Linked DNA regions of Homo sapiens: region 1 is linked to region 2. Evidence: fine-mapped expression QTL. Tissue or cell type: whole blood. Region 2 holds a variant in brackets; the other region holds the start of a gene. All regions are shown on one strand. Distances are between the middles of the regions.

Region 1 (15,840 bases), 24 kb before region 2:
AACTTCATCCCCTCTAATCTGTCATGCCCGAGTACTTACCTGGAACTCTCTTCTCCACCCACCCAAGGCTGGTTAACACCTCTTTATCCTTCAGTATGCAGCTAAGATGGCCCCTCCTCCAGGAAGCCTTCCCTGACTTCCCCATCACATCCCTGACAGGGTAAGGTATCTCCCCATGGGCTCCCATAGTACCCCACTTTTATTCTATCATTAGCATTTTTCATACATATTGCCTGTTTTCTCAGTCTGGGCAAAGAACATGTACTCCTGTGCCTGACACAGGTCCTGGCACTTTGTCAGTGCTCAATAAATATTGCCATGGGGATTGCTCATCACTCACAGAAGGCTTCTCAGAGGCCGTAACATTTTGGCTGGACTTTGTGAGACTGGCGGGCATTTGCCAGGTTAGCAGTTTTCAACCAGGGTCATATACGCATCGAAATCACCCGCGCAACTCTTCCCAAACATGGATGTCCAGCCCCGCCTGAGCACACTGAATCAGAATCTCCAAGGCTGAGCCTGGGCAGGTATAGTTTTCATAGGTTTCACAGGTGATTGCAAATGACAGCATGGGCTAAGGAAAGATAAAAAAGAGATCTCATTATCATCATCATACTCATCATCTTACTGTCAGCAACAGTTCTCAGCATTTGACATATCTTAACCCCTTTGATCCTCACAGTGTTCATTGTCTACATAAAGCACAAATCCTAAGGTGGGCATCCACAGTCCTGTGGTATCTCTCCAGCCAAGGTCCCCAGCCCTTTTCCCCAAGTCCCCACACTCCAGCCACGCCAAAGGACTGGGAATTCCTGGAATCCGTGGTGCGGTTTCATGCCTCCTTTCTTGACATATGTCATTCCCTCTTTTGCCCACCCCATAAATTTTTAATCGCCCTTCAAGACCTAGTTCCAAGCACATATTCTTTTTTGAAACTTTCTCCTCCCAGTTCAAGACAAGCTGGTTACTCCCAGCTTTGGGCCATCCCTTACAGGGATGCTACAGCTCTGCATTAATCCCACAAATATAAACTGAGTACTACTTTGGGCCAGGCACTCTGCTAAATACTGGACACAAACAGGGAGCCGTCTAACCCAGACCTCGACTCCTCCCAACAGAGATGACAGAGATGACGACCACAGCCTCCTCGGTTATCTGACTCTATTTCCCTGTGTTGCTATGGTTACAAACTCCCTGGGGGAGGGAGTTCCTCTTCTGGGAAGTGTTCAGTCAGGCATGTGGAAGGCTCTCCGTAACATTTGCTGAGTGAGGGTTGTGAGCAAATAACAAGGTGAATCCTCCTCTCCTCCCTTCCTCTCTCAGTAAAACTTTTCCCCAGCAGCTCTCAAAATTCCTTGGATTACCTAAATCCAAGAAATCTTTTATTTCACCCTTGAAGATGGTCTTTGATGCTTATGGTTATGGAAATGGCAACGTACAGGAGTCCCTCAGCCCTCAGATAATGAAGCCTCATTGTTCGATACATAAGGACTTAGGAAAAATGATAAAATAGGTAACATTTACTACTATGAGCCAGATGCTACTCTAGACCGTTTCCATATGTCTTATCCCATTTAGATCTCGCAGTTACCCTGAGGGGTCATTTCTATTGTTGTTCCTCTTTACAGAGAAGGAAATGGAGGCTGAGAGAGGCTTGCCCAAGGTTGCACATCTAGCAAGTGATGGAACTAAGGGCCAAACCCAGGCAGTTTGGTTCCAGAGTCCTGCCTCTCAGCCACACAGCCAGGCAGCACAAAGACAAAGGTTTCAGGGTCCCACCTGGCGCTAAAGACCAGGTATCCTGGCTGGCCCCGCTGTGGTGAGTACATGCCGCTCTCCCTCTGCTGGGCCTCAGCCACTCTCTTCTGCTCTGCCTCTCCTTATTTCCTCTCATGGCCCAACCAGCCTCCTGGCTTCCACCTTCTCTCTATGTCCCAATTGCTAAACCCCTCTCAATGCCTCACATTCAAACTCCGCAGGACAGAGGATCATCAGTGGAGCTCCCACTCTTACTAGGCAAAGTTCCCTTATAAGGCCACTCCAAACACTACTGGCCAACCCACTGATGGGCTGCCCTTGGCTCAGGAGCCAGCCTGATGCAATAAATTTCCAATGGATATAAGGCAGCTGATTGGTGATTCTCAGAAGGACCTGAGAGTTTGACTGGTTTACGGAACCTAATAAACTTTTTAAAAATTCACTGGAGGCCAGGCGCGGTGGCTCACACCTGTAATCCCAGCACTTTGGGAGGCCGAGGCGGACGGATCACAAGGTCAGGAGATTGAGACCATCCTGGCTAACACGGTGAAACCCCGTCTCTACTAAAAATTCAAAAAATTAGCTGGGCATGGTGTCGGGTGCCTGTAGTCCCAGCTACTCAGGAGGCTGAGGCAGGAGAATGGCATGAACCCAGGAGGCGGAGCTTGCAGTGAGGCGAGATCGCGCCACTGCACTCCAGCTTGGGCGACAGAGTGAGACTCCATCTCAAAAATAAATAAATAAATAAATAAATAAATAAATAAATAAACAAACAAATAAAGAAATTCACTGGAAAAGGATTTTAAAGGCTGATATTGGAAGAGTTTCATGGACACCTGATGCCTTTGTCTGCCTGGCATAGCTCAGACTTCCTAACAAAATGCCATGGCCAGGTGGCTTAAACACCAGAAATTTATTTTCTCAGAGTTCTAGAGTCTGGGGAGTACAAGATCAAGGTGCTGATCGATTTGGTTCCTGTTGAGGGCTCTCTTCCTAGCTTGCAGAAAGCTACCTTCTCGTTGTATTCTCACATGGTGGAGAGAATGCCAGCAGGTTCTCTGGTGTCTTTTTTATAAGGACACCAATCCCCCCCTGAGGGCCCCACCCTCATGATCTCACCTAAGTCTAACTATTGCCCACAGGCCCCATCTCCAAATGTCATCACATTGGGCGTTAAGTCTTCAACTTTTAAATGATGGGGGGACACAAACATTCAGTGCATAACACTGCCTAATATTCACTCCGCTTTCTGATACTCGCACCCTGGTTTTCCTTTTGGGAACCACCCCTTCCTCACTCAGCTCCTGTGGTTCTACTGGGCTGAACCTATCCCACCCCCAGCTTCATGGGTAGGTAGAACTTGACCTGGCCACCAAAAATGTTCCACTCCTCTGGCCATAGTAATTCGTTGAAAGATGGAACCATGACCCATATTTGGACTAATGAGAGATAGTGCCTATTATGGACTGAATTGTGTGTCCTCCCTGCCCCAAATACATAGGTGGCAGCCTTACCCCCAAGTGTGACTGTATTTGGAGATGGACTCTTTGGGGAGATAATATGGTTAAATGAGGTCATAAGAGTGGGGCCAGAATCCAATAGGACTGGTGTCCCTTTAGGAAGAGACACCAGAGATCTCTCTCTCTCTTTCCATGTACACAGAGAAAAGGCCATGTGTGGACACAGCAAGAAGGTGGCCATCTAAAGTCATGAAGAGAGGCCTCACCAGAAACCAGCCCTGATGGCAACTGGATTTTGAACTTCTAGTCTCCAGAATTGTGAGAAGTGAATTCTTGTTGAGAAGCCACCCAGTATGTGATATTTTGTTATGGCAGCCTAAGACAGTACCAGAGCCACTGGAAAAGACAGGCTGAAATAACGAAGGCAGGATTATTGTGTAAGCCTGAGCTGTCAGAGCTCATGAGAGGGCCTGCCTGAAAAGCCAACACAGAGCAGAGTGAAGCCAGGAGATGGAGGTCCTGACTGTGCCTGAGGAGCACCTGGATCCAGCCATGCCTGAAGTGGGTGTATACCTCTGCATATCACAGTTACTCAAGCCAATGAATTATTTTGTTTTGCTTTTTATTAGTTTGTTTGTTTGTTTTTGAGACAAGGTCTCACTCTGTTGCCCAGGCTGGAGTGTAGTGGCACGATTATGGCTCACTGTAACATTGAACTCTTGGGCTCAAGTGATCTTCCCCCCGCTCAGCTTCTTAAGTTGCTTGGACTACACATCTGGCCAATTTTTTCATTTTTTGTAGAGATGGGGGTCTCACTATGCTGCCCAGGCTGGTCACAAAATCCTGGCCTCAAATGATCCTCCTGCCTCGGCCTTCCAAAATATTGGGATTATAGGCATGAGCCACCGTGCCAAGCCTATTTTGTTTTTTGTTTTGTTTTGTTTTTAAAGACAGGGTCTTGCTATGTTGCCCAGGCTGGCCTGGAACTTCAGGGCTCAAGAAATCTTCCTACCCCAGTCTCCTGAGTAGCTGGGACTACAGGCATGCACCACTGCTCCCAGCTTGAATGAACTCTTCTTTTTGCTTGATTTTAGTTTGTCTCATCAAAAGCACTGTGACTAATACAGAGTCAACTCTAATTTTATTACTTTTTTCATTATATCTGATCAGATATAACATCATAAACACACTGGTGAAGAAGAGTTATAGTCAGAGTACCACTCGAATTGAAGCTTTAAACTGTCAATAAGCCACCTGCAATCCCTCGGTGTAGAGAAAAGGAGAACTTGGACATCTTGATTTCTCACCAGGTATTCAGAGGTCACCTACCTGGTTGGTTCCCTCTTAGAGTGTGACATCTTTAAAGTGGGCTATGAAGCCCTTTGCCTAAGACCTTGCTTTCCCAAGGGGCAGCTATTCACATCTAGCAGACAACACACTAGTGTAGACATCTCAGTGCACTTGGCAAGCCTCTGAAGCCTCTTCTTGTAAGTCAGGCCAGCAATGGCCCTTGCACTGGCAAGCATCTTGCTCAAGCTCTTAAGTGATCATAATAAAGTGATTAACACAGAGTGCCCAGCACAGTGATTACTTCTGATTAGAGGTGGGTGGTGCATTAGTCAACACCAGGCAGAAAAGCCCAGCAATGTTTCTGAGCAGACTCAGGAAGAGATAGTTGTTCTCAAACTTGAGTATGCATCAGAATCACAGAATGATGGTGAAGGGGGGTGGGGAGTGAGGGTGGGGTTGGGAAGACTTGTTAAGACACACACTGCTGAGCCCTACCCCTAGAGTTTCTGATTCAGCAGGTCAGAGTGGGCCCCTAGAATCTGCATTTCTCACAAGTTCGCAGGTACTGCTGGTTGGGGGGCTATACACTGAAAATCACTGTTAGAAGACTGCTGAATTGGACAAAGGCCCCTCAAAGGAGAAATGATCCAGCACTTGGTTTTTCTGCTTCCCTGAAACCCTCATCTCAACAAAGATGCCCTGTTATCTCCACTGTGGGTCCTGAAGCCTTAGACAAGTACAGAAGTGAAATGTACATCTACATAAAAAAATGATACACAGTACTAACTTCATGCCTGTGGGTATAGAGCCAGAAATGTCACAGCACACCTGCATATCTATCACATTGTCACAGCAGCCCCTAGATGCAATTATTCCTGAATTACAGAGAAACAAATGGAGGTACCAGGCAGCTGTGACTGTTGTCTACAGAGAAGACACACGTGGAAGGCAATTTTTCTTGGTCATGAAAATTGTCAAATGTACATAAAGGTGAAATAAATAGTGTAATAAATCCCCAAATGTTTCAACTGCAGTGGACTCTGGCAATGACAGTGGTTCTCAAATTTGAGTGTGCATCAGAATCACCTAAGAGACTTGCCAAAACAGATATTGCATGGGTATCATCCACCAACAAGAATTATTAGGACTTTGCCACATCGAAAACTCTTCTGATGACAAGACAGCACTGGCAGGGAATAAACTCACAAAGATAGTTTTATGTTTCACTTTGCTTTGTTTTGTTCTTGAGGCAGGGTCTTGCTCTGTCACCCAGCCTGGAGTACAGTGTTGTAATCATGACTCACTGCAGCTTCAACCTCCCGGGCTCAAGCAATCCTCCCACCTCAGCCTCCTGAGTAGCTGGGACTACAGGCATGTGCCACCATGCCCAGTTAATTTTTGTATTTTTTTGTAGAGATGGGGTTTCTCCATGTTGCCCTTGCTGGTGTCAAACTTGGGCTTGTGAGCTTGATTTTGGGATTACAGACATGAGCCACCGTGCCCAGCCAGATTTTTTGATGTTATCTCCAAATGAATAAATGTAAGTATGGCCACAGGGACACTGCTCAAAAGGAACATGATAACATACCTCGTTTTGGTAGTCCCGTTTGGGCCTGTCTTCATTTTTATGTTTTTTTCCTTTTCTTTTTCTTTTTCTTTTTTTAAGAGACAGTGTCTCACTCTGTCACCCAGACAAGAGTGCGGTGGCAAGATCATAGCTCACTGCAATCTCGGACTCCTGGCCTCCAGGGATCTTCATGCCTTGACTTCCCAAAGTGCTGGGATTATAGGTGTGAGCCACCACGCCTGGCCTCTTCATTTTTAAAACAACCCAAAAGGGATACAGAATAGAATGTCACTTGGATAGCTGTTTGACAGCTTTTTCTTTTTCTTGTCTTTTTTTTTTTTTTTAATTGAGACAAGGTCTTGCTCTGTGGCCCAGGCTGGAGTGCAATGCCACTGTCATGGCTCACTGCAGCCTCAACCTCCTGGGCTCCAAGGCTCCTCCAGACTCAGCCTCCTGAACAGGCATGTGCCACTGCACCCAGCTAATTTATTTATTTATTTATTTTTATTTTTATTTTTATTTTGAGACAGAGTCTCGCTCTGTCGCCCAGGCTCGAATGCAGTGGCGCAAGCTCTGCTCACTGCAAGCTCCGCCTCCCGGGTTCACGCCATTCTCAGCATCCCGAGTAGCTGTGACTGCAGGCGCCCGCCACCACGCCCAGCTAATTTTTTGTATTTTTAGTAGAGACGGGGTTTCACCGTGTTAGCCAGAATGGTCTCGATCTCCTGACCTCGTGATCCGCCCGCCTCGGCCTCCCAAAGTGCTGGAATTACAGGCGTGAGCCACCGCGCCCGGCCCAGCTAATTTATTTTTATTTTTTGTTTTTTGTAGAAATGAGGTCTGGCCATGTTCCCCAGGCTGACAGCTTCTAACAGAAGCAAACATATGCTCCCCTTGTAACCAGTGCGTTCACTTGCAGATATTTGTCCCAGAGAAATGAGAGTTTGTATCCACCAAAAAAACGTGTACCATAATAGTGACTATAGCCAGAAAAGAGATGAGGGAGGGGGGAAAGGCCGGAAGGAGGGAAGGAGGCAGGCAAGCAGGTAGGAAGGAAGCAAGCTTGGTGTCCATCAACTGGGTAAACGTTTAAAAAATACGGTATCTTTGCACAGTGGAGTACTACTCAGCAATAAAAAGGAAGGAACTGATATGAACTACTTATATTCCCAACAGGATGGATCTTCTAATTTGTTATGTTGAAGGAGAATATTCTGTATTACTTCAAGTTTATGAAGTCCAAGAACAGGCAAAATGAACCTACAGTGACAGAAAGCAGAATACACTGTAGTGGTTGCCTGAGGCTGGATAAGGATGGGGCCAGGGAAGGAAGGTAGGTCAGGAAGGCCCACCACGGAACTTTCTGGGGTGATGGGCACGTTCTATTTGTTGATCTGGGCGACGGTTACACAGGTGTACACATATATAAAAATTAGTGGAGCTGAACACGTAAGGTCTGGGCATCACACTTTATGTAAGTTAAACTTCAGTAAAGTGCTCTCAGCACACATCCGCAGCCGCACCCACACAAAATCCCAGGAGGCTCAGTACCAGCTGTGGTCCGGGCCTTGCCCACCTCGGAGAGGCCACGACCCAAGGCATCCGGTTTCCTCTCGCTCCAGTCTAACTTCCGCGCATCTACGAGGGCCGGGACTGCCGCTACCTTTCTGGAAGGCGCCGGCCGGCCAGTCACCGGAGGGATCCCGCCAGAGGCGGCTCCGCGTCTCCAGCAGCGGGGCAGGGACCCGGGCGCCCCGCCCTCGCCAGCGCCCGCCCCCGCCCGCCCCCGGCCCGCCCTCTGTATCTGGCCCCTGGGCAGCTGCCCGGGGAGGCGGCCAGCGAGCTGGGGCCGCGCAATGTCGCACGGAGCCGGGCTCGTCCGCACCACGTGCAGCAGCGGCAGCGCGCTCGGACCCGGGGCCGGCGCGGCCCAGCCCAGCGCGAGCCCCTTGGAGGGGCTGCTGGACCTCAGCTACCCCCGCACCCACGCGGCCCTGCTGAAAGTGGCGCAAATGGTAAGTGAGCGCGGGGCGCGAGGCCGAGGTTCTACAGGGCGTCCCGGGAAAGCAGGGGTCCGGGAGCGGACGCGCCGGGCGTCTGGACCCGGCCGGAGCCCAGGGAGCATCGCGCAGCGGGCGGGGCACCGCGTCGCTAAAGTTCGCGGCAGGCTTCCTCCGGGAAAGTTGCTGCCGCAGCCCCCGCGCTGGAGCTCAGTCCCCAGAGCCGCCCCGGCCCTTGCTCCCGCGGACCCAGGTCGCCAGGGTCGCAAGTTTCTCCGGCCACCCCCCTGCGAAGCCTGACCCGCCTACTGACTGAAACCACGGGCAAAGTTCCTTTTCGTCTTTCTTCCTCTTCTCTGGGCCGCGCCGCTTCGAACCCGAGCCGGGGGTGGAAGAGTCGCCCAGGCGGCGGCGCTGAGGGAGCGAAACCCGACCTCTTCCCCGTCCACGGCCTCCTCTTTCCTCCGAACCCAGCGCGGCAGGGCTTCCCTGCTCTGTGTGCAGTTTCGCTCGAAGGAGGAGGTCAGAGGGTCTTGTGTTCCATAGTGGGGAAAAAGAACTGGGACCGTTGAGACGGCCGTCCTGGTCCCCTGCGCCCTCAAGTTCCGAGGGAGGGCCCGGGTCTCAGGGGGCTCTGGAGGGCAGGGGGTCAGTTGGGAAAGGCCTGTTGTCAGGGGCTGGTACTCATGTAGGGGAGCCAGACTGTTGAATGGGAGTCACCCGTGGAGCCAGGCAGGATGAGTGTCTGGGCTTGGATTGTGACCAACTCAGCACAAGGGCCTCCTACCAGGGCAGACGTTGCCTGGCCGATTCTCTTGTTCCCCACTCTTTTCTTTTCTCCCCTCCCGTTTTTTTCTTCTTTAAAAGTTTGTAATCTGAAACAACTTTTCCGTTTGTATGATGTGTTTTGAAACTGGGTTGGGCTGTTTGTGAGTCTCCACCATTGTAATGTTTGCACCAAGAACGGTGGGGAGGGGAGCGGTAAGTTTCAAAAAGAGGTGTGGGGAAAGGAGTGTGGGGCTGGACAAGGTCACACACCCAGAAGCTGGGGCCTGCTAAGGTGGCCTGGCCCCAGGGGGTTGGGCACAGGACGTCTGTGCATCTATAGCACTGCCATTCCAGACACTGAGTGTGCATGAGGTGGCCCTCATGTCTTGCTTGGGCCAGACCTAAAGAGAAGGGGCGCTGAGTTCCTGCCTCCCTAAGAACGGTGTCTAGATAGACCAAAAACTAGGAAGAGCCATTTCAGCAACGTACAAAAAAATCTGGTGCTGAGCATTGTTGGGTTTGAGCAGGGCATTTTTTGGCCCAGGCTAAGAGATTTGATCAGCCAAATAGAAGAGACCAGCCCATCTCACCATCCTTAAAAGATGGGCTGGGGTGAGACATATCCTACCTGAGCATTGGAAGGGATGAGTTTGGTAGACAGAGAATGGGATCAGAAGCCTCCATCTTGGCCCCTGAGTTTGCTGGACAAAGATATTGTGGGATGAAAAGTCTTCTTGTTGGTCTATGAGTTTGGTACACAAACATAATGGAGATGAAACCTCGGCAACATAGCGAGACCCCATCTCTACAAAAAAAATTTTAAAACCTTGTGTGGTTGGCATGGGCCTCTAGTCCCAGTTACTTGGGAGGCTGAGGTGAGAGGATTGATTGAACTGAGAAGGTCAGTGAACTGTGCCACTGCACTAGTCTGCGTGACGGAGGGAGGCCTGTCTCAAAAAAAAAAAAAAAAAAAGGTACAAAGAAAAGGTAATGGAGATGAGAAGCCTTCATGTGGTCCATGATTTTGATGAATAAAGATACTGGGAGATGAGAAATCTCCATCTCATCTTAAGCTCCTCAGCTAGCCTCTGGCCTGTGGTCCTTGGGCCAATTTGCAAGTGGCAAGAGTGGGGCCTGTTGTTCCAAAAAAGAGAACAAAGACTTGAATAATTTCTTTATCTGGTTGCTTATTCTCTATGTGCTCCTCTTAAAACCATGCTGAGGAGTCTTACACCTGCCCTGGAGGATTCCCCATCACTGCTGCAGGCTTGTTTGATCAGACCCTCTGGGAGCAAAGTTGCCCTTGCAGGATGGCTGTATTAGTCCTAGTTAGGGCTATCTACTTGGGCCTCTTATCTAACTCCTCCCTATTTTCCCACTTCTCCTCTTTTCTAAGACTCTGCTTGGGCATTTGAGGTTCATTTGTCTTCTTTGCTGGAAAATGCTTGTTTAGCCAAGTTTTAACATTGGGGAAGGGCAGAAGCAGCTAAATTAATGCCACCCATTGGGGCTTTCTTTCTATGGGTCTCTCATTTTGACCATCAGTTTCTCAGTTTCATACTGAACAGGTTGACCCTTTTGTCCTCAGCTTCTCATGAAATGTTTTCATCATGATCTGATCAATAGATCTGCCAACACGTTGTCTTAAGAAATCATTGCAAAGGCTGTTCCACTGGAGAATGACTTCCCTTGTCTTGGCCTCTTCTGGGTCCACCATTACTAGAAAATGAGTTTCTGAGTGAATGTGTGTACTTGACATGTCATTTATACATGTGTAATTTTTATAATCCTCTGGCCATGATAATTCAGTTTCTTTGGTCTTCCTTTTTGGAGTAGAGACACAGTCACAGGTTTTGACTTTTGACTTTAAAGCACTCTTTTTTTTCTTTCTTTCTTGAGAGGGAGTCTTGCTCTGTCACCAGGCTGGAGTGCAGTGGAACGATCTCAGCTCACTGCAACCTCTGCCTCCCGAGTTCAATCAAATCTCCTGTCTCAGCCTCACGAGTAGCTGGGACTACAGGCACGTGCCACCACACCCAGCTAATTTTTGTATTTTTAGTAGAGATGGGGTTTCACCATGTTGGCCAGGATGGTCTTGATCTCTTGACCTCATGATCCGCCCCCGCCTCTGCCTCCCAAAGCGCTGGTATTACAGGTGTGAGCTGCCGCGCTCGGCTAAATGACTTTTTTTTTTTTGAGCGAGACAGAGAGGGTCTTGCTCTGTCACCCAGGCTGGAGGACAGTGGTGTTATCATGGCTTACTGCAGCCTTAACCTCCTGGGCTCGGCGATTGTCCCACCTCAGCCTCCCGAGTAGCTGGGACTATAGGCACCCACCACGATGCCCAGCTAAATTTTGTATTTTTTGATACAGACGGGGTTTTGCTATGTTGCCCAGACTGGTCTTGAACTTAGAGATTCAAGGGATCTGTCCACCTCGGCCTCCCCAAGTGCTGGGATTACAGGTGAGCCACTGCGCCTGCATGAGACTCTTTTTTTTAATAGCTATTTTTTTTTAGCCCTATTATTGTTCTAGTAATTACATACTATATACCATGTGTGTATAATCTCATTAAATGTTTCTAAGAATCCAGTGAAGTAACATGTTTGATAGATAAGGAAACGGGCTAAAGAGTTAAAGAGACACTAAAGTCACACAGCTCTTAGCAGTAGTGGTGGAACCGATCCAGGCCTAATGGCCTGATCTCCAAAACTCATAACTCTGGCAGAGTTGTTGCTTGTTAATAGTTCTAGGGATATAAAAGCCACAGTGAGATAACACTTCACACCCACGGAGATGACAACAATAGAAAACAACAAGTGATGAAGATGTGGAGGATGTGAAGAAATTGGAACTCTGATACAGTGCTGATGAGAATGCAAAATGGTACAGCCACTTTGGGAAACTGTGCAGTTTCTCAAAAGTTACCATGTGACCCAGCAATTCTACTCCCAGCTCTACCCAAGAAAATGAAAACAGATGTCCACATGAAGACTTACACATTCATATGTGTTCATAACAGCATTATTCATAATAACCAGAAAATGAAAACAACACAGTTGCCCATCAAATGATGAATGTATAAACAGCAACTAAAACTAAGTGCTACATTCATACAATTGAATATTATTCAGTCATAAAAAGGGAGAATGAAGTACTGATGCGTGTAACCATATAGATAACCATGAAAACACTAAGCTGTGAAAAAAAGCCAACCACAAAAGACCACATTATATGATTCCATTTATATGAAATGTCCAGAATAGGCAAATGCGTAGACACAAAAATAGATTAGTGGTTGCCTAGGTCAGGGAGCAGGGGTTGAAAGGAAATGGGACGTGACTGCTGTAAGGGGTATGGGGTTTCTTTAGGGGGTGATGAAAATGTTCAAAAAATTGGTGATGGTGCCAGGTGCGGTGGGTCATGCCTGTAATCCCAGCACTTTGGGAGGCTGAGGTGGGTGGATCACCTGAGGTCAGGAGTTCGAGACCAGCCTGGCCAATATGGTGAAGCCCTGTCTCTACTAAAAAATACAAAAATTAGCTGGATGTGGTGGCAGGTGCCTGTAATCCCAGCTACTGGGGAAGCTGAGGCAGGAGAATTGCTTGAATCCAGGAGGCAGAGGTTGCAGTGAGCTGAGATTGCGTGACTGTACTCTAACCTGGGTGACACAGCGAGACTCCGTCACAAAAACAACAACAACAACAACAAAATTGGTGATGGTGATGTTGCACAACTCTGTGAATATATTAAAAACCACCGAGATTTATACTTTAAATAAGTAACTGGTTGGTATGTAATTATGTAAGTAGACCTGTGGATGAGTGTGAGGGGGCAAGGTGCTCTGCATGCAGCCACTGGGTGTGGGGAGGCTACAGCTACACTTCAGGAAATCCCTGTGGTGTTCCCACCACATCCACTCCTAGAAGAAGGAGTGTCCCCTGCAGGAGTCACAAAAGCTGGGCTGAAAGGCATCCCCTGAGTGCCTGAAGGGTCTGAGCTGAAAGGGATGCCCTGGGGTCTGAAGGGGTCTAGATATCCTTGCTGTGGGATTAAGGAGACCCCAGGATGGGGCTTGTGGCCCTACCAACACGTCCTATCTATTTGTTCATTCAGCAGACATTTATAACTGCCACATTCATCTCCATTTGTGCAGAATCAGATGACTGTGACAAAGTTCTTGCCCTCAAGTAATCTGTGGTTCAGCTTGTCATGGGAAGAGGGGTCTTGTCCCAGACCCCAAGAGACAGTTCTTGGATCTCGTGCAGAAAAAACTTCAGGGCAAGTTGTAGAGTATAGTGAAGTCAAAGTAGTTTACTAGACGCCACTCAATTACAGAGTAGAGACTCTTCAGAAAGCAAGAGGAGGAACGCACCCATTGCAAATACAATGCTTGCTTATATAGGTTATTAAAAATAGTGTACTTTATTACAAAAGCTTGCGATCAGCTTGTGACAAGCTATTAATATTGTTACTTTCCTATGTGATTATTGATTTTAGCAAGAACTTATGAGTGTACCATTATTTTAAAAGCAGAACCTATTCTTAAACTAAGAATACTTTTTCTTCTTGAAGAACTGGGACATTTCCGTAAGTTCTGGGTCTTTATTTAGTTAGTTAATATTATTAACTCGGGCCGGGTGTGGTGGCTCACGCCTGTAATCCCAGCACTTTGGGAGGCTGAGGTGGGCGGATCACGAGGTCAGGAGATCGAGACCATCCTGGCTAACATGGTGAAACCCCATCTCTACTAAAAATACAAAATATTAGCCAGGCGTGGTGGCACACGCCTGTAGTCCCAGCTACTCGGGAGGCTGAGGCAGGGGAATCTCTTGAACCCGGGAGGCAGAGGTTGCGGTGAGCCGAGATCGCAGCATTGCACTCCAGCCTGGCAACAAAGTGAGACTCTGTCTCAAAAAAAAAAAAAAATTATTAACTCATTCCCTCAACCATAAACATCATGTGACCAAGACTGCCCAACCCCCTGGGAATGTAATCCAGCAGATTTGGCTTTCTCTCGGCCTTTATTCAAGATGGAGTCACTCTGGTTAGGATGCCTCTGACAAGCTGAGGGGATGAACAAGTACCAAAATTGGCTGCTCAGGAAGGTAAACGTTCTGATAGTTGCCCACCTTATGGAAGAGGATCAGAGGGCAAAGGTGATATTTAAATTGCATCTTGACAGATGAGTGTAAGTTTTCAGGTTGGGAGTGGCTCATTTACCCCTTTGGTGCCTTTATTCAATATATGTTTAAGTTAGAGATAAGTGGTATGTTAGGGTTGGGAAGGAAAAAGATGTAGCAAGAAATGAGCCAGAATTGGGGTAATTATCTTAATCTTCCCACCCCAGACATTTAGAAATGGGTGCCATCTTATCCACTGAGCATCTGCTATGCTGTTAATCTTACGCTATGTGAAATACAGCTATTAACAGGATAGACTCTTTCTGCCTGTGCAGAAAAACAGACTGTGACGTTTACATAACCATAACATGGACAGAGAATCAGAATGTATTTCACAAGCGGCAATGATGGAAATCTAAATATCTTCTGGGAGGTTCATTTATTTATTTGGCAAATATTTGTTGATCACCTACTGTGATCAGCTAACTAGTAGGTGATCACGACTGTGTGCTAGGGAACTGTGGAAAGAAGACAGATGAGCCCCTGCCTCTTTATACTCAAATAGAGAAAATAAACATTAATCAAAATGGTTATGAATATGTAATTACAAACAGGTTCGAAATTATGAAGGAGAAGTACTCAGTGGTATAGAGCATATACTAGGGAGTGTGACCTTTTGGGGATTAGGAAGGGTGTTTCTGAGGAAGGGACATCTGATGTGAGCATGAGGAAATTGCATCACAAGCAGAAGAAAGAGCGTTGGCCGGCGCAGTGGCTCATGCCTGTAATCTCAGCAGTTTGGGAGGCCGAGGCGGGCGGATGGCTTGAGCCCAGGAGTTTGAGACCATCCTGGGCAACATGGTGAAACCCGGTCTCTACAAAAAAATACAAAAATTAGATGGGTGTGGTAGCACGTGCCTGTAGTCCCAGCTACTCGGGAGGTTGAGATGGGAGGATCTCTTGGAGGTCTAGGCTGCAGTGAGTGGTGATCGCCACGGCACTCCATACAGCCTAGGTGACAGAACAAGACCCTGTCCTCCCATCCCCCCAAAAAGAAAAGAAAGAGCACGGACCCTGGCTGTTAGTGGAGGGAGGAGTATCTCTAGGGCTGGAGGGGAGAGAACAGGGTGGGAGTATTGGGGATGAGACTGGAGGTATGCAGGGACCAGACTCCAGGGTCTGCCAAATCTTGGTGAATATATAGTCCTTAGTCTAAGAAAAATCAGCAAAGCATCATATCAACTCACCATTCATGAGGTGACTCTTAACTAGGGGCTGTACCGCCCCCTAGGGGTTATTTTGGAATTTTATGGAACCTTTTGTTTTTTTTTTTTTTTGGTTGTCACAGGGATTAGGGTTATATTACATATACATCTTATTCATTTCAGAATAGTAATGCAAACTGGAATTTTGACAGTGCAATTTTGACAGTGCAAAATACTTTATATCCTAAAAGGATGTTTTGTCTGAAATAAGATTGAAGGAGCCTTCCCAGACTGGGTGCTGGGGGGAGTACACTAAGGTTTCTTGGCAGGAGAGCGGGTCCTGGAGACCCTCTAAGAGGCCTGGGCAATTCCAGGCTTCACTTTGAGAATTCACAGGTTAGGTGCCAAGTGGAATTCAGCTGTGGGGGATGTCAGCCTCTGGTCTAGCTGTGAATAGACCTGTTAGCACAGAATAGCCCAGCATCATCCAGAAGGGCCCATCCCTTTATGTTCTGCTTTAGATGTGTATGGCGGAGGGCGAGGAGGGGGTCTAGTTTGGTTCCCAAGTGCAGTCTGCACACCCATGTCCTACTTCCTGGAAGTTGGAGAGTAAAAAGCAGCAAAGAACCTCACTGCCAAGATTCTTTGACCTCAGCCCATTCCTGACAA
Region 2 (13,913 bases):
CCCTTGCCCCAGGTTCTCCGTTTGTTACCATTTTACATTTGTTTGATCGTTTTCCATTTGTATGCATGCTATTATTTTTTTCTTGGAACCATTTGAGAGTGAGTTGCAGACATCATGCTCTTTTGTCCATGAGTGCTTCAGCATGCATTTTGTAAGAAGAAAGACCCTTTCTTACATAATTGCAGTACAGTTACTTAAATCAGGAAATTAATGATACAAATGCTATTAACTTATCTACAAGCCTTACTCAGATTTTGCCATTGACCCACTAATGTCCTTGGGTCTAGGATCCCATCCCAGATCATAAGGTGTATTCAGTTGTCACATCTCTAATTTCCTTCAATCTGGAACAGGTTTTCAGTCTTTCTTGTTCTTCATGACGTCAACATTTGTGGAGAGTCCAGGACACAGCTGTCCCTTCATTGGATATTAAAGTCAGTTTGGTGGGACCCTCTGATTCTCAGCATTTTGTAGCTACACTGGAGGCAGAAGACAAAGAAAGAAAAGAAATCATGTTTGGCATAACTTGTCTCAATTTGAATGCTTTTGTTTTCACAAAAGTCCCTTTTGCAAATGTCTTATCTGAAGTTAATAGTTAGTAGTTCAAGTTGAGCTTTGCTGGATGTCCTGTTCTTTTAAAAAGCCTTAGCTCAGATGTCACCTCCTTGGGATAGTGGCTAACTAGCAAGTCTTATTGTATGAATTTGATGTGAATCACCTCATTTAATCCTCACAATAGCCCTATCATTTAGGTACTCTTATTTTGCGTATTTTATAGTGAGGAAACAAAAACAAACCCAGGTCTAGGGTGCTCTGCTTCCCCTCTGGACTGCCCCCTCTCCTGCCTTAGGAGGGCCTTCGTCAGCCCCTCAGCTAAAGTAGTCCCCTGCACCACCCTGCTACCATCACTCTATCCTGTTTCCCGGTTCTGATTTCATTACAGCACTTTGCCAGCCAGAATCCCTTTGTTCACTTAATTACCTGTTTATGGTAGATCTTCTCTACCAAGACCTGAGCTGCAGAGGGGCAGCCACCTTTCTGTTCAGGTCACCACGGAGTGTCCAGTTCGTAAGGTGGTGCCTGGAACACAGGAAATACTCATCATCTTTTTTCAAATGAACACATGCATATTTTCTTTGACAAAGCCTTTGGTAATAGCACTCCTTTCCAAAGAGTCAGCATGGATGAAGTGCTTGAGAGACTTGGGTCTTCTCCAGAAGAGGAAATAATGCTGTGTCAGACACCTGCTGAGGGAGGGGGCTGGGGTGTGGGCCCAGCAGTGGAAAGAGCCCTTCTGCCAGGCCCAGAACAGGCCATGGGGCCTGGGGCACATATCTTCAAGCCTGCGGGCCAAGAAGCTGGGAAAAGTCACAGAGAGGCTAGGATGCCTAGCAAAGAGAGGCTAGGATTCCTGTCCTGGAGCAGCCCACTCCCACCCCCCACAGTTTGCGATAGAGATGCAGTTTTCGTAGTAGCTGTTAGCCTGTTGTGATAGCACCTTTCTTTTTTCTTTAGTTGAGTTGACAGGTTTCGACAGACTCACAATCAAAACAACAGAAGCAAACAGAGACAAGCAGAGGGATGACAGAAGTGTCTGTCAGCTCATCAAGCTCTCAGGGCAGGGTTTCTAATTTAAAGCAACACCAGGAAACACTGAATAGTGGGATTACTATATTGGATTAAAGGCTAAAAGAATCAAATGCCAGAAGTGGCAAGCTCAGTTTGTGATACCTTTCCTCACTCGAGTGTTAGCCATTTGGTGTGGCCCTTTGCCTGGCAGAGGCGCTACCTTAAGTCACTTCATCAGATGTTTATTGAATGGCTGCTCTGTCCCAGCTCTGTGTCAGCCGCAGGGGATACAGCTGTGAATGAGGCAGAGCCGGCTTCCCTGTCGCTGAAAATCAAGACCCTAAACAAGGATGGTATTTCATCACCTCGAAGGCACCATTGTTTTAGGCACTCCCTAAGAAACAAAGAAAAATAATAATTATGTGGTAACACAAATCTCTCTTATCGTTCAGGATTTTTGTCTTATGCTTATTGAAAGAACTCTTTTAGATTTAATTAAATATAAATTTTACATATTTTTGTGAATATATAAAAAGGAAAATAGGTGAAGAAAAATAAATTGGTTAAGATATCCCTAAAATTTTTTTACAGTCAGAGCCTTCCTCTTCTAAATCTTTTTATTTTTAGAATATTTCTACACAAGCTATTGTCCTCTATGCTATCAAGAGTGTGAGCCATGCAGCATTTCTCAGAAGAATCCACACAAAAACTAAAAGCCATCAGTGCTGGGTTTGTGCACTGGCTTTTGACTCCCACTTTGGGAATGTTGCTAAGTGACCCCCTGAGTCACTGTCCCCGCCATCAGTCCCATACCCTGGGGGTCAAGGTGCTCTACTCTTGTCTCTGAGATTTTCTTCCTCCTGCTGGCACCTATGACACACGTTTTGATGCTGGTGTGTCTGACCTTGCCACATGCATAGGCAGTGATAACTACACAACTGTTTTTCCAGTGGTCATTGAAACACCCCGACTTGGCCAGGCGCAGTGGCTCACGCCTCTAATCCCAACACTTTGGGAGGCCGAGGCAGGCGGATCATTTGAGGTCAGGAGTTCGAACGAAGCTCCAGGCTGAGACCTAATGCACGGGAAGGGGCAAGGCAGGAGGGAAAGGTGGAAGGGTGTCCTGGAGAAGAGAACAGTCTCTGCAAAGTCCCAGAGTTGGGAGAAAAAGTACAAGGTTTGCAATCTTCTTGGTCAGTTCATAAAGTAGGCTTTTTGGTAGTGGTGAAGTATGGAGGATCTGTTAGCCACAAAAATGTTAGTGGTTCCATTGGGCTTTGCCAACATCCGCACCATAGCTAACTGTCTCGTAGAAGCTGCTGGAGGAATTAATGATGCAGTGGGCATGTTAATATACCTAAATTAAAATATTCATTGCAGCCTGGGTGTGGTGGCTCACACCTGTAATCCCAGCACTTTGGGAGGCCGAGGCAGACAGATCACCTGAGGTCAGGAGTTTGAGACCATCCTGGCCAACATGGTGAAACCCCATCTCTACCAAAAATGCAAAAATATTAGCCGGGTATGGTGGCGCACGCCTCTAGTCCCAGCTACTCGGGAGGCTGAGGCAGGAGAATTGCTTGAACCCAGGAGGCAGAGGTTGCAGCGAGCTGAGATCATGCCACTGCACTCCAGCCTGGGCAACAGATTGAGACTGACACACACACACACACACACACACACACACACACACACACACACACACACACACACACACTGCATCATTAATTCCTCCAGCAGTTTTTTTCATCTGGGTCTTAAGTTGAAGGGATTTTATAGACCTAGCGTTTTTTTTTAAGTTTTTGAGATGTTTGTTACTACACAAATATGAATAGGGAAACATTAATATAATTAAATCTGAAAGTTATTTGAAACAACTAAATTCACCCATGCGCCCACCATTCCACAGTTTCTACAATGTTATATTTTGGCCCTTGTTTAAGAATATGTGTAAAGTTTGCAGGGCTGTTACCCTACTGACAATAATAGATTCTGCTTTGTTGCTTATTTTTCTATTACAAAATTTAATATTTGGTAATGTCCCTGTTGCTATAAAAGCTTCATAATTGCACATAATATGTACAATCATCTAAGTGGATATTTTTAAATTTATGTGACCACTCACTTTTAAACATGTAGGTTTGCTTTTGAGCTTTTAGCTACTATAAATGATATTACATTGAACATTTTCAGGGGTTGGCAAACTACAGCCCACAGACCAAATCTGGCCTGCCACCTGTTTTTGTAAATAAAGTTGTATTGGAACACAGCCAAACCCATTCATTCATGTATTACATATGGTCACTTTCACACTAGCACTGCAGAGTGGAGTTGCAATAAAGATTGTGTGGCCCGCAAAGCCTAAAATATGTCCTATTTGGTCATTTACCAAAAAGAAATGGCCAATCGCTGTTTTACGGTATGCAGTAGAGTTTTCTTTTGACTTAGATTATTTTCCTTAAGATAAATTCTGAGAGATGGATATTTATTCACAGGATATATAACTTAGTTTGTTGATTTCAAAATAACCTCTATTTGTAACATGATTATGACCTTAAAGACAGTGACATATCAGAACAAATGAATTAGCTGATTCATTGATACATTCATTTATTAACTGTTATAAGATTAGAGTGATTAGAAGATATTATTAACACACCTTTGGTCCATTTCATTTGTACTCAGAGGTAACTAATCTTCATCTCCATTATAACTCCTCTAATAGCACCCAGTTCTTTTCATTCACAGTGTTTCTCATAGTTTTAGATTTTTTTATTAGTGCAACACTAGCTGCTGTAACAAATAACTCTCAAATGTTACTGGTTTGACACGATAGCTTTCTCCCTCAGCCATTTAGGAACCCCAGCATGGGGGTTCCTGGTCAGTAGGCAGCTTTTTTCCTATGTGGCTATTCAAGTTTGGGCCAAGATTTTTCTATTCTTTTTAAACTACTTTTTTGGGGAAAGAGCCCACTTAAACAGTTGCAGTGGCCATACTGGTGTGTGCCCAAATATCCCCTTTATTGCTGAGGCATTCATCCGCCGCAGGTTCCAAGAATGTGGCCTGCTGAGTCCCTCCCCACAAATTGATGTCCACCAAAGGGACTCGCCTCACCCAAGATGATGCCTAACCTCTCCCTGGGGGCAGCCTGTATCCAGTGGTCAGTGGAGAGTCAGGAAGGCCTGGTCTGCTTGCTTCAACAGAGAAAACTCTGAAGAGCGGTCCTAGCTTCAGTGCTCCTCGGAGTATCAGCCAAGGCCTTTGTTATGACTGCTCAAATCCTCCCTCCACCTGGTCCTGTCTTGCTTACTCTCCCACTGTAATCTCTTGGAGAGCACTCCCCAGTTAACTTTTTGCATGCAAATCTCTTTCTCAGAGTCTATTTCCAGGGAATTCCACCACCCCAGGACCAAATGACCAAGCTACATTTTCTTGGTTCAGTTTTCATTCTCCACGTTCCACTGACGTTGAAAATTTGCACCTTCTTTACCGCTGTATTTCAGCACTGCGTTCACAGCTTCTGTTTGGTGCAAGTCTCTGCTCGTCCCCTCATCTTTGACATTTCTTACTAAGGCTCCTTTTATTGCCTCATTACTTTAGGAAGAGGTGAAGTACAAATTACCAAGATAATAAATATTCAAATTGCACAGACCATCTGCCCCTGAACAGATGTCCACTCTAAGTCAATGTCAATCTCCATCCCTGGGGCAAGGGGAGAGGTGAAGAAACTTTACCATTGAAGCTTCATGGGAGGAAAAGGGATGCTGGGGAAGTGTGGCTTCTCTTGAGTTTCTGATTCATACACAGGAAGAGATTCCTTCCAGAAAATTTAGCTAAGGAAGAGGAAATGATAACCCAAGAATGTTATGATATGGAGCCTGCCAATTCTTTACGACAACGGAAGTGCTGCAGGGACCCAGTGAGAGTTTTACTTTTGCATTTAGCTCTTGTGGGCAGAGCATGTGATGCATGCCAGGAACTGTGCGTAGTGCTTTTCAGGTATTGGAAGAGCTCTCTAAGTGGGGTACTATTTGTCACCTCCACTTTCCAGGTGGAAAACAGGCCCTGGGAGGTTACATAGCCTTTCCAGGTTACACAGCTAAGAGGCAATGGGAATTTGACCCCAGAACTGTTTGACTCCAAAGCCAAGCTCTTAATCTGTATTGTCTTGCCTCTCTTCTGTAGAGGCCAAGGTTGTCCACAGTCTAGCCCAGGGACCAGCCAAAGTACTTTAGCTGGGGATGGAAGTAAACCTGTTCAAAACGCAGATTCCTGGGCCCCAGCTCAGACCCACTGGATTAAAAACTCCTCTGGCTGACGAGATCACGCCACTGCACTCCAGCCTGGGTGACAGAGCAAGACTCTGTCTCAAAATAATAATAATAATAATAATAAACTTTGGCTGAGGGGCCCAGGGACCTGCATTTTAACGCATCCCCTTGTGGATACACTCTCTAAAGGATGAGAATGTCAAGTAGTGACTTTCTCACTGCCATACAGATCACAGGCCACCTTCATAACTTCCCTTGCCTTGTGTCAAGCAAACCAGCAGGGACCTGAGACCATCAGCACCTTTGTGACACCTGCAGGTCGTCTTCCACTGTCATGCTGCCTTTTCAGTAGGCCCTCCCGTTGGGATTAAGTACTTTCTTTCATGCTACTCTTCATCTCCTGATAAGGGAGGGAAACTGAGGCAGTGGAACTGCTGGATTCCTACTCCTCAGTGAAATCTTGGGTACATCACCTGCCTTCTCTATGCCTCAGTTCCCTCTTCCGTGAGATGGGGGTGATAATATTACCTGCTCAGGGTTACTGTGCAGATCTTCTCTGAAGTATTTAAGCTCTGAGTGAATGTTAGTTATTTTTTTATTACCTCCTTTCAGTAGTCTAGTGAGATCTTTAATCTTTTCTCCAGAAGTTAGCTGGGTCTGTTCTTGCTATTCCATATTCATAATATTTTCTACAAGGTCTTCATTTCCTTTTTCCCTTTGCACATCTCCAACTTGCCTCTGCAAATCTATGCTAGTCCCTTTGATAAGAATATTAGATTAGCACAGGTCTGTGTCTGCATGAGGAGAGAGCCCACTTGGTCTTTGTCCAAGGTTTCTCAGACGTTTCATTTTGTATTTAGCTGTCATCTGTAGAGCATGTCATACATGCCAGGCCTGTGTTTTTGACTTAGCATAGACATCAAGGTGATGAAGAAAGACTATTGGGTTGGCTCTTGGCTCTGCTGCCCACTACATGGGTAGGTAATCTTGGGTAAATCACGTCCCTTCTCTTGGTCTCAGTTTTCTCTTGTGAAGTAGGGGAAAAGTTTTTGAGATCAGCATTGTTCTAATTATGATATATATGTGCACATAAGTACTTTTTTGTGTTTTGTTTTGTTTTTGAGACAGAGTCTTGCTCTTGTAAACCAGGCTGGAGTGCAATGGTGCGATCTTGACTCACTGCAGCCTCCACCTCCCAGGTTCAAGCAATTCTGCCTCAGCCTCCTGAGTAGCTGGGATTACAGACGTGCGCCACCATCCGGGCTAATTTTTTTTTTTTTTTTTTTTTTTTTTTTTTTTTTTTGAGACGGAGTCTCGCTCTGTCCCCCAGGCCGGACTGCGGACTGACTGCAGTGGCGCAATCTCGGCTCACTGCAAGCTCCGCTTCCCGGGTTCACTCCATTCTCCTGCCTCAGCCTCCCGAGTAGCTGGGACTACAGGCGCCCGCCACCGCGCCCGGCTAATTTTTTGTATTTTTAGTAGAGACGGGGTTTCGCCTTGTTAGCCAGGATGGTCTTGATCTCCTGACCTCATGATCCAACCGCCTCGGCCTCCCAAAGTGCTGGGATTACAGGCGTGAGCCACCACGCCCAACCATATGTACTTGTTAAGAATGAATTGCTGGGCAAGCTCAAAAAAGCCTGGGCTCTGGTGTAGATGAACTGTGAGTGTTGGGGGCTGTGGTATTGCTTTAAGGTTTTTCTTTTGGTATTAAGAAATTCCAGGGCAGAGAAAGTCAGAGAAAGTCATTTCTATGGAAATGAAGTGAACTTTTTACAAAGTGTACTAAGGGCTGGGACCTCTGAATTTCATCTCTTCTTCACAATCTAACTGTCATTCCACAGCAGTGTCATTGTGTGGTTTCTCAGCAGATGTCTTTTTCTTTTAAGTTTTTTAAATAAGAGCATTATTGAGATAGAATTCACATACTATAGAAATCATCTATTCAAAGTGACAATTCAGAAGTTTTTAGTCTGTTCACAGAGTGTGTACCGTCATCACCACAATCAATTTCGGAACACTTAGAACAGTTCTGTGGGTTTTGACAAATGCATAGAGTTATAGATCCGTCACCACAGTGTGTACAGAACAGTTCCATCACCCTAAATTCCCTCATGCTGCCCCTTCATAGTCAATCCTTTCCCCACCTTGTAACTCCTGGCAACCATTGATCTGTCTTCCATCCCTATAGTTTTACTGTTTCCAGAATGTCGTATAAATGGAATAATATAACATGTAGCTTTGGGAGTGGCTTCTTTCACTTAGGAAAAGGGGTTTAAATTAATCCATGTTATCACTTGGATAATAAAAATATTCTTTCTATTACTGAGTAGTGTTCCATGATATGGATATGTGTGTGTTCACCAGTTGAAGGACATCTGTTTCCAGATTTTGGCGATTATGAATGAAGTTGCTATAAACATTCATTTACAGGTTTTTCTTGGGTGTATAAATGTAAGTTTCCATTTTTCTTAAGTAAATACCTATCTGTAGTTTTGTTGGGTCGTACGTTAAGTATATATTCAA[A/G]TGTATAAGAAACTGCAAAGTTGTTTTTTACAGTGGCTATACCATTTTGCATTCCCACAGCAGTGTATGAGAGTTCTTGTTGTTTACCACACTTGCCAGCATTTGATATTATCAGTATTTTCTAGTTTGGGTTTTGCTTAATTTTAGCTATCCAAATAGGTAGGTAATGATATCTTACTGTGGTTTGTTTTTGGTTTTTTTTTTGTTTGTTTATTTATTTTAGACAGGTTCTCACCTGGTGTCCAGGCTGAAGTGCAGTAGCATGATCTCAGCTCACTGCAACCTCCACCTTCTGGGTTCAAGCAATCCTCCCATCTCAGCCTCCTGAATAGCTGGGACTATAGGCGTGTAACACCACACCTAGCTAATTTTTGTATTTTTTGTAGAGACCAGGTTTCCCTGTGTTGCTAAGGCTGGTCTCGAACTCCTGGGCTTAAGAGCTCCACCTGCGTCAGCCTCCCAAAGTGCTGGGATTACAGTTGCGAGCCACCGCGCCTGTCCTTATTGTGGTTTTAATTTCCATTTCCCTAAAGACTATAATGTTGAACATCTTTTCATGTGCTTATTTGCCATCCACATAGCCTCTTTGGTGAAGTATCTATTCACATTTTTTGCCCATTTTTAAAAATAGGCTTGTTGGTTTTTTATTTTTAGGTTTTGAGTATTGTTCGTATATTCTGGATAAAGTTCTTTGTCAGAAATGGGATTTACAAAATGTTTCCACTGCTCTATATCTTGCCTTTTCTTTCTCTTAGTCTCTCGAAAGAGCAGGGCAAAAGTTAACTCTGATAAAGTCTAATTTATCAGTTTTTTTTCCTTATGGATTGTGTTTTCAGTATCTTATCTAAAAACTCTTTTCCTAATCCAAGTCACAAAGATTTTCTCCTACGTTTTCTTCCAGACGTTTTACAGTTTTATATTTTAGGTCTGTGATCCGTTTTGAATTAATTTTTGCATAAGGGTTAAGTATGGGCCAGGGGTCGTTGTTTTATATATGGATATCAAGTTTTTCTAGCACTACTTGTTGACAAGGATATCCTTTCTCCACTGAATTACTTTACACTTCTCTCAAAAGACCAGCTGATTATATTCATATGGGTCTATTTCTGGACTCTGTTTTGCTGCATTCGTCTATTTGTCTAAGCTTTCACCAGTACCACACTGTCTTGATTACTGTAACTTAATAGTAAATCTTGAAATTGGATAGTGCTCTTTTGCAAAGTTGTTTTTGGTTATTCTCATTCCTTGCCCTTTTCATATGAATTTTAGAATCAGTTTTCCAATATTACAAAAATAACAGTAATAAAGCCTATCACTGGGATTTGATTGAAATTGTGTTGAACCTGCATATCCATTTGGGGAGAATTGGCTCATTAATAATATCATGAATTAATAATATCTATGAACACGGTGAGCCCTTCCAATTATTTAGGTCTTTGATTTCTTTCACCAGTGTTCTATCATTTTCACCATATTGTAAAGTTAGATTTATACCTAATAAATATTTCCCTTTTTGCTGCTATTGTAAATAGTCCTCTCCTTTGTGTTTAATTTTTAACTTCAGTTGTTCATTGCTAAGATATTGAAATGCAGTTGATTTTTGTAAATTGGTTTTGTATCTCATGACATTACTAAAGTTATTTATTAGTTCTAAGGAGGTTTTTAGTAGATTCTTTGGGATTTTCTACATAGATCATTATGTTGTCTACCAATGAAGTAGTTTTGTTTCTTCCTTTTCAATCCATATGCCTCTATTTCTTTTTCTTACCTTATTGCAACTTCCAGCAGTATAAGAATGTGAGAAAAGACATCTTTTCCTTGTTCCCTGTGTTGGGGGAAAGCATGCAGTATCTCATCAAGTATCATGTTAGCTGTGGGTTGGTTTTTAGATGCCCTTTCTCAGTCAAGGAAGTTCCCTCCTATCCTTGCTTGCTGAAAGTTTTGTTTTGTTTTGTTTAATCATGACTGGATATTGAATTTTGTCAAATGCCGCTTTTTCTGTCTCAGTTGATACGAATATATGGCTTTTCTTGTTTTGTCTGTTCATAAGGCATATACATTTGAAACATTTGGAAGTACTGAACTACTCATGCATTCCTGTGATAAACCTTAGCTGTGGTACATTTGTATTTCTTATATATGTTGGATATGATATGCTAATATTTTATGGAGGGTTTTTGATAGCCTGGAGTTTCTCTGTAAGCTTGTTAATGACTCAACCCACTTTGCGTCCTTCCTTTTGAGATATTCATGTATTCATGGTCTAGTGTGGGTTATTCTGAATCCTGGTCTCTCTTTCCTCTCTGTGTGGTTGGTGTTCTTTTGGGTTTATCTGTTTCTCCTTTTTGCCTACATGTTAGAAAAACTTGAAGTTATGCAGCTCAATTCAGGAACAGGATGTAGGAAGAAGTATTTGAGTCCAGTAGCTAGATTCAAATTGATTTGCGTCACATTATTGAGGTCCTACCAAGTGCTGGGTCCCTGTTGTCACCTTAGAAGAACAGTTTATTTGTGTTTATCTGAGCAGTCTAGTTCTCCATTAGCAGGCACATGAGAGGAGGTATTGTTGAGGATGAACCTTTCGTCCATGTCTCTTTGTGGCCTCCCTGTTTCCTCCAGATGCATCCAGATCAGGGCAGAAGCAGAGCCTGCTTCATGGGGACTGAAAGGCCTTCTTTGTCTTTCCACCAGGAGGCTTTTGCAGTGGCAAGGAGGCCTGAGAATGACCCCGCAGGCCGGGTGAGGGGAAATGTAGGGAGTGGCCAGGTTCCAGCCTAACAGGTTATTTTTAAAAAGTGAAGCCCAATGAGGTGGGGAACTTTCTGAAGGGAGGTCTTTGTTTTCACTTGGCACTCAGATGACTCAAAAGTGAGAAAGCAAAGGAGAATGCAGGCAGCAGGGGAGGGCTGACTCTACGCCAGCCTTCTGAAATGACTTCAGCTGTACCTGGGCCTGCAGGTCACAATGATCATGCCTTTGAACTGGGGACACGGTTGAAAAGGCTGGAGGAGGAAGAAAGGGGCAAGGTGTCCACGCCATAGTCCCACTGTCTGCCTGACTGAAGGGCGGTTTACCACAGCTGGCTTTTTGTTCCCTAAAAAATGCAGCGGCCAGAGAGCAGGTGGGAGAGGCCCTCTCTGGGGAGTTGTTCCTCAGAACTGGGTCTGGGGGCAGGAGAGGGGGCCAGCTAATGGCCTGCAGAAGTGGCAAGGCCTGCTGCCTGCTTGCTTGACTCAGCGGTTTAGTTTATGGCAGAGTTTGCACAGACGGAATCGCTTGACCATGTTGTCAACAATCTGAGGCAGCCAAGCCAGCCAGGGAAGTTTTTTTGTTGGTCTCACCGGCTGTCTGGACCCTCCCACTGGAGGCGACCCTGCTCCCCACCTCACCGTGCAGCCTGGGTCCCTGGAGGCTCCCTGGGACATTCCTGCCACCTGCTGCCCTCCTCTCCCACCCAGCTCCTCTCCCTTTTCTTCTGGCCACTATTCTGATTTCAGTCCCCATTGCCTTGCTAGAACTGACACAGCCTCCTACAAACTGACTTCTGTGTCTTTTCTCTCCCATCTCCAGTCCACCTGCTACTAGATTCATTTTCCTGAAGAACAATTCTGCTGTGGCTCTTCTCTGCTCAATAACCTTCACTGGCTCCCCATCGCCCACCTAGCATATCTACTTCCTCAGCCTGGAATCTGATCCCCACCCCATCCCGCCAGCTTTGCTTCCCATCACACCTCTTCACATACCTGTGCAGTTTGCCTAACATGGACAACAACCCTCTTGTTCCCAAATATACTCTTGTGCTTTCCCACCCCTATGCCTTCTGTGGCTGTGTTCCCACTGCCAGAAGCCTCTGATTCCCCTTCTCTGTGTGTTGGAATGCTTTTGTGGAGTCCACACCAGGGCCATGTCTGCTCTTCATACGGGACATGCCTGACCTTCTCCTTCCTCTATTCCTCACAAATTGTAGCTCTCTGGTGGTATTTATCCCCTGTTTTGTTGTCGTTACTTGTGTCTGGATCTTAAGCTCCTTACCCTTTAGGACAGGGTCCGTGTCTAAGCTGTCCTCATATCTTGCTCATCTCCTGGTGACAACACACTGCACTTAGAGGAATCATCATTTTTGTGCTACTTTGTGCCAAGACCTCAAACATTATCCTATTTGTTCCTCCCAAGAAACTTCTGAAAGAAGTTTTAATACCTAACATTTGTTGAGCATTTACTGGAGCAGTACCAGGCTGTTCTAAATATTTTGCCTGAATTAGTTCATTTAATCCTTGTATTAACTCATTAACTCTTTGTAGTATATTTGATTATTATCCCTCATGCCAAAGATGAGGAAACTGAGGCCCAACGGGGTGAACTAGCCCCTACTGTCTGTGTTGAGTGACTGTCTGACCTGTGGGGGTTGCTAGCCATGCTTTATTGCTCCTGTTTGGCCTTCCTTCCTCTGATGGAAGGCAAGCCTTTGGCTAACACTCATACTTCCTTCCCCAGGCCCCACAGGGCACAACGTGATGATCACACGTTCTCAACAATAGTGATTTTTCATCCGTGACACATGCTTACAAATCCCTTAATGGCTTTTCTATTCTTGTTTTGTCGTTTTTTATCCCAGACTAATTTCTTCTTCCCCAGGCTGGCACTTATTTGGCATTGTGCTGCCTGGGGTTTTAATCAAGGCGGCCTACACCCACATTGTGAAACTCAACAGGCACTCACTTCTGGCACGGGCCCAGGGCTGGGTGCCAGGCCTCCTGCTGGGACTGGCCCCACAGCTTCTCCAAATATTTATTTCCCCAGGATAGTGGCAAAAGTACTCAGCAGCAGAACTATTTCTTCTGTGTCAAGGTTCCTTAGGATTATCTTTGGCAAAATGGCAACCAGTGCCGTCTCGTAGCCCTAATGCCAAGCACAGAGCTGGACGTGTATTTGGCCATCAGTAGATAATCCTTGAATGAATAACTTCATTCTCCTTTCCTTTTTAAAAGCTAGGGTTGCCTGACTGGGAAACCAGGAAAATTCTGAAAACAGATGTATCAGTTAGCTTTTGCTAGATAACAAATACAGACACTTCTCAACTTATGGTGAGGTTACTCCTGAGAAATCCATTGCAAGTTGAAAGTACTGTTAAGTCAAAAACGCATTTAATACCCTCAACCTACCAAACATTATAGCTTAGCCTGGCCCACCTGAAACATGCCCAGAACACTTACATTAGCCTACAGTTTGGCAAAATCATTTAGTACAAAGCCTATTTGGTAATAAAGTGTTGAATAACCCAAGTAATTTATTGATGTTCTACTGAATGTATATCACTTCCATACCATTGTAAAGTTGAAAAATCATAAGTTGAACTATCATAAGTCCAGCCATCATAACTGTAGGCACAAAACCTCAGTGGCATACAGCAATAAAAGTTCATTGCTGACATGACTGAGGTCAGCTGGGGATTGGCTCTGCTCATTATAAATTAGGCTTGCTTCTGTGGCTGGGGGTTGGCTGCTGTCATCTGATCTGGGCTGGCTTCTCCTGGGGTAACTGCAGTGA

What was found. PIP is the estimated chance that this variant, and not a neighbour inherited with it, causes the effect.
Region 1: CMTM7 starts here. The variant in region 2 is fine-mapped to the expression of CMTM7 in whole blood (TOPMed, PIP above 0.99).

The regions. Positions count from the first base shown.
Region 1 is chr3:32,383,976-32,399,815 of GRCh38, forward strand. CMTM7 (CKLF like MARVEL transmembrane domain containing 7) reads left to right here and starts at 7,878. Exons shown (of 5, transcript NM_138410.4): 1 at 7,878-8,090. The coding sequence starts at 7,932.
Region 2 is chr3:32,409,255-32,423,167 of GRCh38, forward strand. The region is part of intron 1 of CMTM7 (CKLF like MARVEL transmembrane domain containing 7); the gene reads left to right. Among named protein-coding and RNA genes, the nearest start is that of CMTM7, 24 kb to the left of the region's middle. RefSeq lists enhancers at 10,386-11,585, 10,817-10,876, 10,937-11,006, 11,097-11,176. The variant A/G (reference allele first, on the strand shown) is at 8,367.